Linked DNA regions of Homo sapiens: regions 1 and 3 are each linked to region 2. Evidence: fine-mapped expression QTL. A gene starts in region 2. Each other region holds a variant in brackets. All regions are shown on one strand. Distances are between the middles of the regions.

Region 1 (5,000 bases), 41 kb before region 2:
GAAACTCAGATCCCCAGGCCAGGTGTGGTGGCTCTTGCCTGTAATCCCAGCACTTTGGGAGGCCGAGGCGGGTGGATTGCCTGAGATCAGGAGTTCAAGACTAGTCTAGCCAACATAGTGAAACCATGTTTCTACTAAAAATACAAAAAAATTAGCTGGATGTGGTGGCATGTCCCTGTAATCCCAGCTACTTGGGAGGCTGAGGCAGGGGCATTGCTTGAACCAGGGAGGTGGAGGTTGCAGTGAGGTGAGATCACACCACTGCACACCAGCCTGGGCAACAGAGTGAAACTCCATCTCAAAAAAAAAAACAAAACTCAGATCCCCTTTACCTGCCACCTTGGGGTCTTAGGAGGCAGGTCCCCTTCCCTCCTGGCCCCTGTCTGGCTTCCCTGGGTTTCCCGTTCTCCTTGAGGGCTCCCATACCAACTGTGCCCTGGTCTCCCAGGTATGAGAGTGTGATTGCCACACTGTGTGAGAATCTGGACTCCCTGGATGAGCCTGAGGCCCGGGCTGCCATGATCTGGATTGTGGGCGAGTACGCGGAACGGATCGACAACGCAGATGAGCTGCTGGAGAGCTTCCTCGAGGGCTTCCATGACGAGAGCACACAGGTGAGCCAGCGAGCTGGCCAGGGTGTGAGTCATGACTGGCAGCTCAGCCCCACTGTGGCCCATACTGCCATGAAACCCTCCCTTCCTATTACCTCGTAAACAGCCCTGACAGACAGATGAGTGATGTGCGCGTAATGGACACCGCCCCTTTTCCTCCTCACTGCAGTACAGTCGAGTCGGGGACACGTGAGAGTCTGTGGTGGTGTGCGTGGAAGGCAGGCAAAAGTTCTTCATTTTGTTTTAATTCCATAGTCATATTTTAATAGGAAATATATTGACTTGGTTTAAAATTGATACAAAAGCATATATAGTGAAAAGTTTCCCTCTCATCACTTTGTAGGACACAAATTCTCCTCCCAGAAGTCATCACTTTTTTGATTTCTTAGGAAAGTTCAGGAGATCATTTAGGAATACACCAGTAGACCCACAGATACACACACATGCACCCATCCTTCCTATACACACATACACACACATATGCAACCAATTCTTATTTTTCATGGTGCTTCTGTTCCATAGTCATGGCAGACACTGAATTAGCAAGTACTGAACCATAGCTCCTAGGAGAAATATAGAGTTTAGTTTCTGTGAGCATCTAGACCCAACGTTTTTGTCAATTGATCAGTTAATAACCTTTTTAAATGTGTGTTTCTGTTTAAAAACACCTTAGTTAATATATATTGTCAATTCATTGACATTGAACTCATGGCCATGGATACTGTAATTCATGCCTTAGCGAAGCTTATCAAGGACATGTTTTCTCTGAGGCACATCACAGCCTTCTGTGCTTGGGGACACTAGGCAAGCACTTCAGTGCTAGGGAGCATTTTAAACAAGGAAATCAACAAAAAGCTCAAAAATGTGAAAAACATGGCACTAAATAGGTGGTGGAAAGGATGCTTGTTTACAGGATGAGAGCTGAAACATGAGTGTTGCCTTATTTGACCTCAGCTGTGAATGTGTGTGTCAGGCAACTGAAAGCTTTCACGGTTCTGCACGTATTTGCAAATGACTGCAAAGGCACCATGAGTCTTGATTTGGGGGCTACAAGTAAATTTTAGCAAGTAGGCAGATTCACAAACATGGATTGCTCAAGTAGTGAGAATCAACTGTATCTACACTGCCCTCTCATTTATTTTTAAACACTGCTGTAGCATACTCTGTAAATTCAAATTGTTTAGCACCTTGCCTTTTTCTGTTACCAACACCTGCAAAGACCATGCTCTCATTCATTTATGCTTTATTTAACCATCCTCTCCTGGTGGGTATTTAGGTGTCCAGTCTTGTGCTCATTGAAACAGTACTGCCGAGAATAACCTGTGTAATGCACATCTGCAGGCATAGCTGGAGGATACATTCATAGGAGCAGGATGCTTAGAGAAAAGAGCATGTGAGTTTGAGATTTGGGTAGCTGTTGCCAGATTCCTGTTGTGGAGGTTGTGCTGGTTTAGACTCCTATCTCAGATGCTGGGATTGCCCTCTCCTTACTTCTGCTTTGTTTTTGCCAGTCCAGTAGCTAACAGGGGTACCTCACTGTAGTTCTGTTTGCATTTCTGTTATGAATGAGGCTGAATGTCTGCCTTGTCATTTGTATTCCCTTTTCTCAGTTAACTGGGAACTGTCTGTTAGTCTGTTGGTGAGCACAGAAATTTTTGCTGCCCAACTGGGGTTGTGTAATCCCGTGGGTCCAAGTGTGGGACTTAGAATGAGAGATCCCAGAGTCCATACCCCTCCTCTGCCCCTTCCTGGCTCAGTAACTTTATGCTTATCCCTTTAACTCTCTGAGCCTCAGTTTCTTCATTTGTAAAATGAGAATCATTAGATCTTCCCTCATCCTCTTGCTACGAAAGTTAAATTAGGGTGCTTTGTGTAATGTCCTTGACACATGGCCAGCCCATAATAAACACTCGTTCATGGTAGTGTTGGTTTGGGCCAAATTGGTTTCAAAAGCAAACTAGTCCAGGCCAAAAAGGGGACCAACTGGTTCCGGTAGCTGGCAAGTGTGGGTAGCATGCTCTCTTCTGGGACTCCTGGCTGAGGGTGCTTGGATGGTGGCATTGAGCTATCTTCTGCCATGGATAGGCTCCCAACAGTGGGAGCTGTAAGGAATCAACAGTTCCAGGCTATGTCCTTATGGCACAATAACTCCCATGGGAAGAGTTTTTCCCCTCCCCTCAGTAGTTCCAGCAAAAGTCCCAGGACCTATTTGCATTATCCTGAGCCAGGCACTGTGACTCTGGTTGGCGAGGTCTCTCAGGCACCGATCCCAGTTTGTGTGGACTGAAAGGGACAGAAAGAAGGGCGAGGCTCTGAAGGAAAGCCAGTGTTTCTGTTCCCAGAAGACAGAATAGATGCTGGGTGAGCA[A/G]AAACAACAGATGTCCATCTCAGAATCACAGTACTAATTCCCACCGTCACCCCCCCCCACTGCCACCTGCCTCCAGACTGCCTTTGCTTGCAATACCAGCCTCTTCCCTCTGTCTCAGAAGCAAAGCTTGCCTATGCTGGGTTCTGCTCCTGCAGTCAAGTCCTGCCTGGGATCACTGCAAGGATGTCCTGTAGTGCAGGGATCCCCAACCCCCGGGCCACCATGGCCTGTAAGGAACTGGGCTGCACAGCGGGAGGTGAGCGGCGGGCAAGCAAGCATTACTGCCTCAGCTCCGCCTCCTGTCAGATCAGCGGCGGCATTAGATTCTCATAGGAGCGCAAACTCTATTATGAACTGCACATGAGAGGGATCTAGGTTGTGTGTTCCTTATGAGAACCTAATGCCTGATCTGAGGTGGAGCAGTTTCATCCTGAAACCATCCCCCAACCCGCATCCCCTATCTGTGGAAAAATTGTCTTCCACAAAACTGGTCCCTGGTGCCACAAAGGCTGGGAACCGCTGCTGTAGGGGTGTGCTTCTGCCCCTATAATAGGGTCAGTCTTTTGCAGCTAAGCCTGCTAAAAAGCTAGAATGAGAGAAGCTGGACAGGGAGAGGTAAGCCAAGAGTCTGGTGGTGTGAACAGAAACAGAGCTCTGAAGTTTGAGATCCAAGCTCCTCCTCCCTGTTGTGTGGCCTGGAGCACAGTTACTTGAACTCACCAAACCCATTTCCTTGTCTCTAGTGCAGTTATTGCAAAGACTGCTGGGCCTTGTTTGTAAAGTGGGGGTGTGATGTAATTCAGTAGCCTGTTCACTTTGCATCTTTGGTTCACAACACAGTTCAAAGCTCTTTTAAGAATACTTGTTAGGGCCAGGCACAGTGGCTTACACCTGTAATCCTAGCATTTTGGGAGGCCAAGGCAGGCAGATCACTTGAGGCAGGAGTTTGAGACCAGCCTGACCAACATAATGAAACCCCGTCTCTACTAAAAATACAAAAATTAGCCAGGCATGGTGGTGTGCGTCTGTAATCCCAGCCACTCAGGAGGCTGAGGCAGGAGAATCGCTTGAACACGGGAGGCGGAGGTTGCGGTAAGCCGAGATCGCACAACTGCACTCCAGCCTGGGCAACAGACCAAGACTCCATCTCAGAAAAAAGAAAAAAAACAAAACAAAACTTGTTAACTGGGTGCAGCGGCTCACGCCTGTAACCCCAGCACTTTGGGAGGCCGAGGCAGGAGGATCTTTTGAGTCCAGGAGTTCGAGACCAACCTGGGCAACATAGTGAGACCTCATCTCTATAAAAAAAAAAAATTAGCTGGGTGTGGTGGCACACCCCTGTAGTCCCAGCTACTTGGGAGGCCTAGGTGGGAGGATTGCTTGAGCCTGGGAAGTTGAGGCTGCAGTGAGTCAAGATCACACCACTGCACTCCAGCCTGGGCAACAGACCGAGACTCCATCTCAGAAAAAAGAAAAAAAACAAAACAAAACTTGTTAACTGGGTGCAGCAGCTCATGCCTGTAACCCAGCACTTTGGGAGGCCGAGGCAGGAGGATCTTTTGAGTCCAGGAGTTCGAGACCAACCTGGGCAACATAGTGAGACCTCATCTCTATAAAAAAAAAAAAATGAACTGGGTGTGGTGGCACATACCTGTAGTCCCAGCTACTTGGGAGGCCTAGGTGGGAGGATTGCTTGAGCCTGGGAAGTTGAGGCTGCAGTGAGCCAAGATCACACCACTGCACTCCAGCCTGGGCAACAGAGCGAGACCTTGTCTCAAAAAAAAAGAATACTTGTTTAGTGCTTGACGATTTGGAGTTTTTTGTTTGTTTGTTTTAGTGGCGAAATCTCACTATGTTTTGCCCAGGCTAGCCTTGAACTCCTGGGCTCAAAGGATTCTGAATAGCTAGGACTATGGGCCTGCACCACTGCACCGGGCTTGACAATTATGGAACTCATTTTATATTGTCTTGTTGAATCTTCTCATCCTTGGCTCCTAGGCCTCTCTAGCCATGGACAGCAG
Region 2 (5,000 bases):
AGAGCCCCCTGGGGCACCTACTGTGTGCCAGGCACCTTGCCCAGGTTTTTCCATGCCTCGTCTCAACCGAGCATCACAGCACCCGCTCAACCTCGAGCCTCCATGAGGTTGTGGGTACATCTGCCTAAGACTGACTGCAGGGAGGGCACAGAGGAGGCGCCCCGATCATGCGGCCCCCCAGAAGAAGGAATGCACAAGCTCAGTTGAGGCACAGTTAGCACACAAAGTGAGGGAAGATCGTGCCAGGAGCCCGCATCCTGTCCCAGGCCCGGCTGGGCTGCGTCATCTCCCCGGCACCTCCCTCTCTGTGGGCTACCCATTTCCTTGGGGTCAGGTATACATTCCTCGGTTTGGTGCTCAACATGTGCACTCTTTTTGTGGGGCAGACTGTTCTGCAGATAGCAGGGTGGACCCTGGGAGGTTCAGGGACAGATTGCAGGCACTGGCTGTGCTGTCGGGTCCCTGGCACCTGGTGCTGGGGGACTCACCAGCTCGTCGAGGTTGCGCAGGTCGCTGGGTGTCATGCGGGGGCCGCGGGCAGGAGTCCCTGGTGCGGGGGCGGTTTCAGTGGTGTCCTCCCCAGCGGCAGGGGCGTTGGGGGCTGGGGGTGCAGCACGCAGCTCCCGCTCAATCTCCTGCTCAAACTGCACGAGGCGTGGGGCCAGCAGGCCCAGGCGTGCCCCACGCCGCGCCACCTCCAGCAGGCACAGCACCACGCTCTTCTCGTTCTTGCGCAGCACCAGGTCCTCAGTCTCAAACATGAGCACCTCCGGCACACCCAGCTCCACGCGGCACCAGCCGATGAAGGTGGCCACGTTGTCGCGCGCCATGAAGGAGCCAGGCACTACACTGTGCGCCTGGAAGGCCACACCTCGGGCCGGGCGGGCGGCTGCCAATGCACGGGCAGCCTCGGTCACGGCGTTGGCATGTTGGCACAGGGTCGTGCCCGTGGCCAGCCCTGTCAGGAAGCCATCGCCACCACCCGGGAGACCCAGGCCGTACAAGGCATTGAGCCACTCGGCCAGGTCCTCCTTCATGGCCTCCACGTAGGCCTCACTGGAGCGAAATGGCCGCACGCTCTTGGCCGCCGAGCCCGCGATGCCCGCCACTGGGTCTGCCATGCCCGGACCGGCCGAGTCACTGTGGGCAGGAACACAGTTCAGGATCGCTGTGGGGACCCAGTAAGCGCTCAGTACAAATTAAGCTGCTGGCCACCTGCACCAGTCTGTCACTCAGGCCAAATGCCTGGTTTACATGTTGGCTCTGGGAAATGTCGGTGCCCCAAGTTTCCTCATCTGCGAAATGGGTACAGTAACATTCCCTGCCTCATAGGACTCTATGGGATAATTTTTATAAATTTAGGGTCCATTAAGTGTTTGCTGTGTGGCTTTTTGCGGTGGAAACTGGGGCTTGGCTGGGGCCTCCCTCTCAGGCAGGGAGGCGCGCCCATTGTGAAGGGCTGGGACCTAGAGAAGTGAAGACAACGGCTAAGGCCCCCAGTGGACACGAAAGGAACCCAGGTCCTGACCTCAGAGTGGGTTATGTGCATGGCTTAGGGCTGGTGCCCACCCCATGTCCTGCGGGAAGGTCCCCGTGCCTTCCTTGGCCCCCCTTCCATAAGGGCTGTGCCGTCATTAACGACATAGCAGCAGCAATAGTGTAACAGCACGACCGCGCTCGGGCTCAGCGCGCGGAGGCATTATCTCCATTTTATAGATGAGGAAACTGAGGCGCAGAAAGGGTCGAGCTCGTGAAGGTCGCAGAGCTGTGGGTGGAGGAGCCCGGCGTCCAGGCGGCGCAGCGTGGCCGGTCTCGGCGATCCGGGGCCAGGGCCAGGCCCCGCCTCCTCCAAGAAGCCTCCCCAGCGCTCCAGGCCGGTGCCTGCGGGGCCAGGACTCAGAGCGGCCTCCGCAGGCCCTGCCGGTGCTGGGGCTCTGGGCCCAGAGAGGGTGCGGGGCCGCCCAAGGTCACACAGCCCCGGGGAACAGAGGCCGAGGACGCCGCTTCCCGCCCCGCCTCCCCACCCCCGTCCATGCGCACCAGGCAGGGAGTGCTGGGGGTCTCCGCGCTCACCTGGCTCATCCCGCGGCCCCGGGGAGCATTGCCCCAGCGGGGGCCGGAGCCGGGCCGGGCCGCCGCAGGGAGGCGCCGCCCGAGCCGCAGCTCTATGCGTCCCGCGCCGCGGCCTCCTCCTCGCCGCCGTCTCCGCCCCGCCTCCCTGGAATTCGGATCCTGCCCGGAGGGGGCGGGCGGGGCCGCGCGCTCTTAAAGGGGCCGCCCCTTCCCCGAGCCGGCGGGAGCTGGGGTGGAGCTGGGGTCTCCCCCCGCCCGCGATCGGGCCAGGAATCCCGGGTCTTCGAGCGCTCTCGACGCAGAGAGCCCCAGGGCCCCCAGACAACTGCGACCGGCCCAGGCGCCCAACCCCCACCCAGCCTAGTACCCGGGGCCCCGTCCAACCTCTTTGGTCTCCTGGGGAGGAGGTTGGGACCTTTTAATCGCCCCCCTCCCCAGACGGTGGGCTCCCCGGGCTGGCGCACAGCACGGCCTGTTCCCAAGATGAAGGCAGGAAGCGATAGCGGCTGGAGGCTGCAAAGTCACCTCCTCCCGGGTGGACCTCCCCTGGCCAGATAAACGGCACCGCCGCGGGGAGGGGGAGGATGCCCCTGGCGACTGAGGGCTCCTTGTGCTCACTGAATGCTCATTTTTGACCCTGAAATGAGGGGAACCGGTTTTACAGATGAGGATACTGAAGCTCAGAGAAGTAGGCAGATGGCCAAAGCCGGAGTTCCGCACAGAACAGGGGACGGGGGGCATCGGAGGCCGGCCGGACGCGGGAGGGTTAAGCCCCGCTGGGCTCTTTTTAAACTGCAGAGGACGGACCGCCGGGATCAGCGGGAAATCCTGCCCCCTGCTGCTGCCGGCTGGGCTGGGCGGGACGTCGGGCGGGTCTGGGCGGCAGCCATGCTACACGGGTGGGGCAGGCCTGCAGGGAAGCCGCCAACCACAGCCAGGCTCAGAGCTCCAATAAATCTCCTACTGTGTGCTGCCAGGACTGCTCTGCGCCCTTGACCTGAATGAACTGGTGTGTCACCTCTGTGAAGGACACTCATGCCCAACTGGGGCACAGTCAGGAGAGCAGCTGGTGGAGCCAGGATTTGAACATGACGATTATGGGGACGCCCTCATCCACGGATCAGCAGCATTGGTTGAGCACCTGTGAGCCAGGCCTCTTGGTGCCAGGCATTCACAGGCATCCCAGAGAGTCCTTGTGACCTTTTCTTTTTTATTTTCTTCCTTTTTTTTTTTTTTTTTTTTTTTGTCTCGCTCTGTCGCTCAGGCTGGAGTACAGTGGCTGGATCTGGGCTCATTGCAACCTCTACCTCCGGGGTTCAAGCGATTCTCCTGCCTCAGCCTCCCGAGTAGCTGGGATTACTGATACCTGCCACCACGCCCGGCTTTTTGTATTTTTAGTAGAGACAAGTTCACCATGTTGGCCAGGTTGGTCTCGAACTCCTGACCTAAGGTGATCTGCCCGCCTCCACCTCCCAAAGGGCTGGGATTACAGGTGTGAGCCACTTGCCTGGCCTGTGTGACCTTTTCAAAGGCGTTTTCTCACCTCAGCGCCCCCCATGGCACTTCCTCCAGTGAGGAAGGCAGTAACTAGCAATCCTCAAGGCTGACACCTGCGTGGCACCTACTGTGTGCTGGGTCTCTTTGGGCACTGGAAATCAACAGCAAAACAGCAGGGAACCAAGCAGAGCCAGCTCTCAGGGCCTGTTGTCCAAGTCTGGCAGGGAGGCAGCCCCAGGGCAGAGACAGGGATGAGGTGCAGAGAAGACAGGGATGGAGCCGGGTGAGGGTGTGGGTGTGAGGGGGCTGCAATTTAAAATCCCTCATCAGGAAAGGAAGTGAGGGAGGAAGGTCGGGGATATCTGGAGAGGGAGAGGGAACGGCCAGTGCAAAGGCCCCATGGTGGGCATGTGTCCGGCGTGCTCAAGAAGACTGGGGAGGTGGCTGAGGCTGGAGTGCAGGGAGGTGGGTGAGGGAGGAGGTAGAGAGATTAGAGAGACCCCAGGGCCGGTTAAGCAGGGCCTTGGGGGCCGTGTCTCTTTTGAGGGACATGGGAGCCATGCAGTGATTTAGAGCAGGGGTGGTTGGCTTAGGTCTTAACATTCCCGGCCGGGCGCGGCGGCTCACGCCTGTAATCCCAGCACTTTGAGAGGCCGAGGCGTGCGGATCACGAGATCGGGAAATCGAGACCATCCTGGCTAACATGGTGAAACCCTGTCTCTACTAAAAAAATACAAAAAAATTAGCCAGGCGTGGTGGCGGGCACCTGTAGTCCCAGCTACTTGGCAGGCTGAGGCAGGAGAAGGAGAATGGTGTGAACCTGGGAGGCGGAGCTTGCAGTGAGCCCAGATCGTGCCACTGCACTCCAGCCTGGGCGACAGAGCGAGACTCCGTCTCAAAAAAAAAAAAACATTCCCTGGGGCTGCTGTGGTGGGCCAGGGCAGGAGCTGGAGCCTCAGAGGAAACCAGGTGGTGAGAGGGCGCTGGATTCTGGCCATATTGTGAGGGGAGAGCTGATGTGCTGGTGGATTGGTTGAGTGTGAGGACGGAATCCAGGACAACTCCCAGGGCTGAGCACTGGGAGGGCGGAGGTGCTAACACCTGGGGAGGGAAGGGCTGCTGGAGGTGGAGGAGGGTTGCAGGTTTGGGGTGGGGGTGAATCAGGGTGTGGACATTTAACAGTTTCATCTTCAAAATACCCCGATGAGCTATGATACTCTTAGGTGTTCTCATTTTACAATTTGGGGAAACTGAGGCCCAGAGAAGGCATGGGATATGTGTAGCCAGCAGCTGTGCAGGAATTTGACTCCTGCTTATACCTACCTTGCTGCATTTTGGGGTTTTGGACATGGGTGAAGTTGGACGGAACCCAGGCTCTGTCATTGGTCATTGGGTGGGATGGTGAAGCTCCCTGAGCCTCAGTGGCACCA
Region 3 (6,390 bases), 73 kb before region 2:
TAGGATCTTAAGCCTATTGGGAGCAGAATAACACAATTTCAGTAGAGCCAGCCTTGGGTCTGCTGCTGTGGTGGTCTTCATTGCCCGATCTCCGAGTATTGGGTGGCTGGCTGCTGGGACACTGAGGACAGAGACTTTCTAAGTCCAGTATTCATTCAGTATTTATCGAGGCCTGCTAATGCCTGGTGCTGGCCTATGCTGATAGGTCAACAGGCCAGATATGGCTTCAGGCTTCAGATAAGCCCTCTAGTTGCTTACTTCATTTTAATGGGAGAGAGAGACAAAGAAGTAGAGAAAAAAATGCAATGATTAGAAAAACCAATAAGCCACAAGGGAAACAAAAGGCATAGCAGCCAGAACTTATTAAAATATAGGTCAGATGTCAGGACTCCTCTGCTCAAAACCCTCCAGTGGCTCCAGCTCACTCAGTAAAAGCCAGAGACCTCACGCTTGATCATAAGGCCCCCTGCATTCTCCTGTGACTTCCTGACCCACTGTTTTCCTCATTGCTCACTCAGCCACATTCACTTCCCTTCTGTTCCTCAGACATGCCAGGCACATACTCACCTTTGCACTGGCGATCTCTTTTGCTTGGCAGGCTCTTTCGCAGACAGTGTCACCTGTCACCTTCTCAAGGAGGCCTTCTATGGCCACCCTAGTTAAATTTTAACTTCCCTTCCTCCCCTCTCCCCTCCCTATCCTCCTTCCCTCCTCTTTTTTGCCTCCATTGTGTTTATCACTATCTAAGATGTTATATATTTTACTCACTTATCTTGCTTACGGTCTCTTTCCCCCATTAGGACATAAACTCCATGTAGGGAAGGATTTTTGTCTGTTTCTTTCACTCCTGCATTCCCAACATGTAGAAGTGTTTCTGGTACACGAAAGATGCTCAGGAAATGTATGAATAAGAACACTGAAGGATGTGGACAGAGAAATACCTTCTTAAGGTTGTACATGCATGGCCAGGTGCCGTGGCTCATGCCTGTAATCCCAGCTACTTGGGAGGCTGAGGTGGGAGGATCATTTGAGGCCAGGAGTTCAAGACCAGCCTGGATAATTTAGCGAGACTCCACAAAAAACTTGAAAAGATTAGCTGGGCATGGCACACGCCTGTAGTCCCAGCTACTCAGGAGGCTGAAGCAGAATTGCTTGAGCCCAGTAGTTTGATGCTGCAGTGAGCTATGATCACACCCCTGCACTCTAGCCTGGGTGACAGAGCAAGACTATCTGTCTCTAGCAACAACAACAAAAAAGATAGTACATGTAGGAAAGGTATTTTTTTTTTGTTTCTTTTTTTAAGCATCAGAGGTATCACGCTGAAGGGAAGTTATCTTTGAAATGAGATCATCTAAGCTGAGATTTGAAGGATAAATTGGAGCAGTTAGGAGAGGATAATCCAAGCAGAAGGATCAGCAAGGGTAGAGATAGTGAAGAGTTGGCTGTTAGAGGAACAAAGAAGGCATGTGGGCCTGGAGGCAAGGACCTGGTACTTATATCCTGTGCCAGAGCCCCCCACCTTCTGCAGCTCTGTCACTCTGAGCTGATACCTATGGGAGCAGGTGAGAGTGACTTGGCCTCACTGAACGTTTCTCCCACTGGAGATGTTGCCACCTGATCTTCTACCCTTGCCATTTCTTCTCTCTCTCATAATTTATTCACTTAACTTCCATTTATTGGCTGTAAATGTGCTAGGGGTCTGGCATGTTCAATTTCAGTATAGTTAGAATAGCTTGACAATCAGAGCAGATGTATCTCTGATCCTGGATAACCCCGTGAATGGAACATGGAGAAGCTGCTCTAGCAGAGGTTGGTTTACAAAACATGAAATTTGCCCAAGAAGAGAGTTGAGCACTGGTCATTCAGCTACTTATTGAACACCTGTTTGCCAGGTACCAGCCTAGGAGTCAGGAATATGATAGTGAACAAAATGGACAAAATCCTTACCCCCATTTACATTAGGGAATTTATAGGGGGAGAAAGAATAGACAACGTAAGTATATTTTATAGTGTGTAGGTAATAGGTAATAAGTACTTTGAAGGGAAAAAGGGCAAAGAGGGTTAGGAAGTGGTGGGGATTATGGGGGAGGGGTATACAATTTTAAATAAAATGGTCAAAGAAGGCCTCAATGAGAAGATGACATTTGAGCCAAGACCTAAAGAGGTGAGGGACTGAGCCATGAGGCTGTCTGGAGAAAGAGCCTTCCTAGCAAAGTGAATAGCACGGGCAAAGGCCCTGGGGTGGATGCATGTTGTGTTCGAGGATCAGTAAAGAGGCCTGTGCGGCTGGAGCTGAGGGAATGATGGGGAGAAGAGTTCAAAGGGTAATGGCCAGCAGGGTGCATGCGTGAGAGAGGAGGGGCATGCATCTCTTATAGGACCTGTGGGCTATGAGGCCATGGTAGGGACTTTGGCTTTTACTATGAGTAAGACAGAGAACCGTTGGAAGACGTTGAGCAGAGGGGTGCTACTGTCTGATTTGGACTGTAAGAGGATCATCCTGGCTGTTGCTGAGATGGGGTGTCAGCAAAGCAGTGTGGGAGCAGCTTTGTTAGCACTCTAAATGGAAGGTGATGCTGGCTTGGAGCTGGGGTTAGTGATGGAGCTAGTGAGAAGCTGCTCATGGATTCTAGATTCATTTTGAAGGTCGGAATCCAATAGGATTTGCCGATAGATTTAAAGGAGAGTATGTTGTTAAGAGTGACTCAGGTTTTTAGCCTGAGGCCCTCTTAAAGATGGTGCTGGCAGGAACTAGATGATGTAGACTGCAGGGTGAGCCAGTTGGGGAAAGGAAGGAAGCAGGAGGTCAGTTTTTATCCCATTGTTTGAGCTGCCTGCTAGTCATCTCCACAGTAATGTGGAGATGTCAGTTACACAGTTTGGACATGTGTGCCCGGGGGTTCTGGGGAGAGGTTGGGCTATGTGGATGGTATGTAAAGCTGTGATACCGGATGATCCACCAAAGAGGCAAAATAGCATAGATGGGGAAGAGAAGAGGTACCAGGCCTGAGCCCTGGGGCACACAGTGTTGAAGGAGAAGGAGAGGAACAAGCAAAGGAGACTGAGAAGGCGCAGACAGTGGCGTAGGAGGGCAGGCAGAGAGCATGGCATCCTAGCATTTGAGGGAAGACAGGTTTTCAGGAAGGAGGGAGTGATCAGTAGTGTCAAATGCTTATCAGCATGAGACTTGTCATTTGACATGACCATTGTGTCTTCTCCTGGCAGGACCCAACACACCTGGCATCCAGAACCATTTCTGAATCTCATTCTTCCTTCCCTAGCCTCGTCTGCTCCTTTCCCTTCCAGGTCCTTTCCTTCAGCCAGGCAGCGGGGCTCACAGACTTCTTGTTTTGGCCTTAGGTAAATCACTCATCTCTCAGTGTCTCTAATTCCTTGTTTTTTAACTGAATTACCCTGAGAATTAAATGAGAAGGGTTGTAAATCACTTAGCAAGAAGCCGTTCCCCAGCTAGTGTTGATTTAATTGTTGTCAGTTCCCTCCGTTGTCACATTGGCAATTTCGTGGTGCATCTCTTTGCCACCTCCACTCTTGCCTCTCTAAATCTGACCTGTCTTTTTGCGTCAGCCAAGCCCCTCTTCATCTAAGAGAACTTCCCTTGCTGCTCCACCTATCTCAGAACCCTCCTCCTCTGGAGGCATGATCACTCTGCCGTTCCCCTGCAGTCCTTTACCTGGCCTCTAAATCTGTAAGAGCTCAGTGAGAAAAGACTGTCCTTTGTTTACTGTGTGCATGCTTCCGTGTGGGGCACAGTTCCAGGCATGGAGCGGATGGTGCTCTACACTGTTAATTTGACAGATCTTCAGAAAGTGTTCCCATTACATAGATGGGAAAACCGAGATCACAAAGAGCGTTGTTCTGTAGTCTCTGGCCTCTTTCTCCTCATCTCGATTAATTTAAGTATTGTTCAGAAGAAGCCTTACTTACTTTATTTTCAAGTCCAGAGGAACTTTTTCTTTTTTTGAGATGGAGTCTTGCTCTGTCACCCAGGCCAGAGTGCAGTGGTGCGATTTCAGGTTCAAGCAATTCTCCTGCCTGAGACTCCTGAGTAGTTGGGACTATAGGTGCGAGCCACCATGTCCAGCTAATTTTTGTATTTTTAGTAGAGATAGGTTTCGCCATGTTGGCCAAGCTGGTCTCGAACTCCTCACCTCAAGTGATCTGCCCACCTCGGTCTCCTAAAGTGCTGGGATTACAGGCATGAGCCACTGCGCCCATCACTTTTTTTTCTTCACAGCAGATCTTTCCGCACATTACGGCTTATAGATCAGTTCAGAACTGGTACCTGATTCTAGAATGGAGTTCTAGAGACTCAAAGCCAATATAAGAACGTTTGCATGTGACATTTGTCTGCCTTTAGTTCCTTTTCATTCTGAAGTCTTTAATTGCTAGTGGGCCTCAGGAAACTGACTTTTTTTTTTTTTTTTTTT[TG/G]TGGGACGGAGTCTTGCTCTGTTGCCCAGGCTGGAGTGCAGTGACACGATCTCAGCTCACTGCAAGCTCCGCCTCCTGAGTTCACACCATTCTCCTGCCTCAGCCTCCCGAGTAGCTGGGACTACAGGCACCCGCCACCAGGCCCAGCTAATTTTTTGTATTTTTAGTAGAGATGGGGTTTCACCGTGTTAGCCAGGATGGTCTCGATTTCCTGACCTCATGATCCGCCCGCCTCGGCCTCCCAAAGTGCTGGGATTACAGGCGTGAGCCACTGCGCCCGGCCTTTTTTTTTTTTTTTTTTTTTTTTTGATACGGAGTTTCTTTCTCTCGCCCAGGCTGGAGTGCAGTGTCACATTCACAGCTCACTGCAGCGTCAACCTCCCAGGCTCAAGCAATCTTCCCACCTCAGGCTCCTGAGTAGCTGATACTACAGATGTATGCCACCACACCTGGCTAATTGTATTTTTGTAGAGATGGGGTTTCGCCATGTTGCCCAGGCTGGTCTTGAACTCCTGCGCTCAAGAGATCTGTCTGCCTCAGCCTCACACAGTGCTAGGATTACAGGTGTGGGTCACCGTGCCCGGCCAGGAGATTGATTTTGACTAATCAGTTTTCATCCAAATCCCAGGAGGCCCATAACTTGGCAAGCGCACCCAGATAGGCTTTCACTAGGCACATGACCAAACTTGACGTTCCCTGTTGTCCAAACCGGCTGGGCTGGCCCTAAAATAACCTGTAATTCAACATCTGAGGGACTCTGCAGGGATGTGTGGCAACCCATTTCACATACCCTTTACCCTAGAGCATGTATATTTCTGCCAGGGCTTCATTCAGAGAGGAGCAGTTAGTTGCCTTGCTGGACAGAGTGGGACATGTGTGACCTTATTAGGGGGCAGCAGTGGAGAGTGCCGGCACTGCCATTTTCTAGCTGTGTAACTCCAAACAAATGCCTTGACCTCCCTGGTACTTCAGTTTCCTCATCTGTAAACTTGTGATAATATTAAAACCTTCATGGATTATCGTGAAGACTAACTTTTTTTTTTTTTTTTTGAGACAGAGTCTCGCACTGTCACCCAGGCTGGAGTACAGTGGCACGATCTTGGCTAACTGCAACCTCCGCCTCCCAGGTTCAAGCGATTCTCCTTGCCTCATCCTCCAGAGTAGCTGTGATTACAGGCGCCCGCCACCATGCCTGGCTAATTTTTTTGTATGTTTAGTAGAGACAGGTTTCACTATGTTGACCAGGCTGGTCTCAAACCCCTGACCTCATGATCTGCCAGCCTCAGCCTCCCAAAGTGCTGGGATTATAGATGTGAACCACCACGCCTTTCCACGAGGACTAACTTTAAAGCTCTTTACATAGTGTCTGTCACATGGTGCACATCCATTTACCATTACTACTACCACTGCCACCTTTGTTCCAAATTTCATGCTGAGCCTAAAGAACACAGATTATTTTCTCATAGTGATTGAACTGACTTGGAAGAGCCTGTCTGAATTTGGTAACCACGTTTTCTCAGAGAGAAAGTCTGAAATCTGGTTTTTCTACTGCTGACTCACCTTTTAGTCTTCCAGCTGGCCTTACCTGTTTCCCTGTCTGTAAAGTGAACTTAAGTATTTACCTATAAGGACCTTTTTCCTTTTTTTTTTTTTTTTTTTTTTTTTGAGACAGGGTCTCACTCTGTCACCCAGGCTGGAGTGCAGTGGCACGGTCTCGGCTTACTGCAACCCCCGCCTCCCAGGTTCAAGCGATTCTTCCACCTCAGCCTCCCGAGTAGCTGGGATTACAGGCACCTGCCACTACACCCAGCTAATTTTTGTATTTTCAGTAGAGACAGGGTTTCACCATGTTGGCCAGGCTGGTCCCAATCTCCTGACCTCAAGTGATCCTCCCACCTCGGCCTCCCAAAGTGCTGGATTGTGGGCATGAGCCAGCATGCC

Direction of the effects. Positions count from the first base shown, and alleles are read on the strand shown. Sizes are in standard deviations (SD) of each study's normalised expression. Not every link is listed here.
In carriers of allele G in region 1, the expression in cerebellum of the gene that starts at base 2,577 in region 2 tends to be lower than with A alone (large effect, 0.80 SD a copy in GTEx).

Evidence for each region.
Region 1: its variant is fine-mapped to the expression of GAS2L1 in cerebellum (GTEx, PIP above 0.99). The same link has a PIP of 0.9 or more in cerebellar hemisphere.
Region 3: its variant is fine-mapped to the expression of GAS2L1 in whole blood (INTERVAL, PIP above 0.99).

Annotation. Positions count from the first base shown.
Region 1 is chr22:29,344,832-29,349,831 of GRCh38, reverse strand. It overlaps AP1B1 (adaptor related protein complex 1 subunit beta 1), which reads left to right. Exons shown (of 23, transcript NM_001127.4): 11 at 449-614. Among named protein-coding and RNA genes, the nearest start is that of SNORD125, 14 kb to the right of the region's middle. The variant A/G (reference allele first, on the strand shown) is at 2,980.
Region 2 is chr22:29,304,227-29,309,226 of GRCh38, reverse strand. GAS2L1 (growth arrest specific 2 like 1) reads right to left here and starts at 2,577. Exons shown (of 6, transcript NM_001362985.3): 1 at 2,074-2,577; 2 at 489-1,140. The coding sequence starts at 1,121. RefSeq lists silencers at 1,841-1,980, 2,071-2,120, 2,141-2,410 and enhancers at 2,081-2,824, 3,171-3,220, 2,825-3,570.
Region 3 is chr22:29,376,920-29,383,309 of GRCh38, reverse strand. All of the region lies in intron 1 of AP1B1 (adaptor related protein complex 1 subunit beta 1), which reads left to right. Among named protein-coding and RNA genes, the nearest start is that of AP1B1, 8.5 kb to the left of the region's middle. The variant TG/G (reference allele first, on the strand shown) is at 4,449.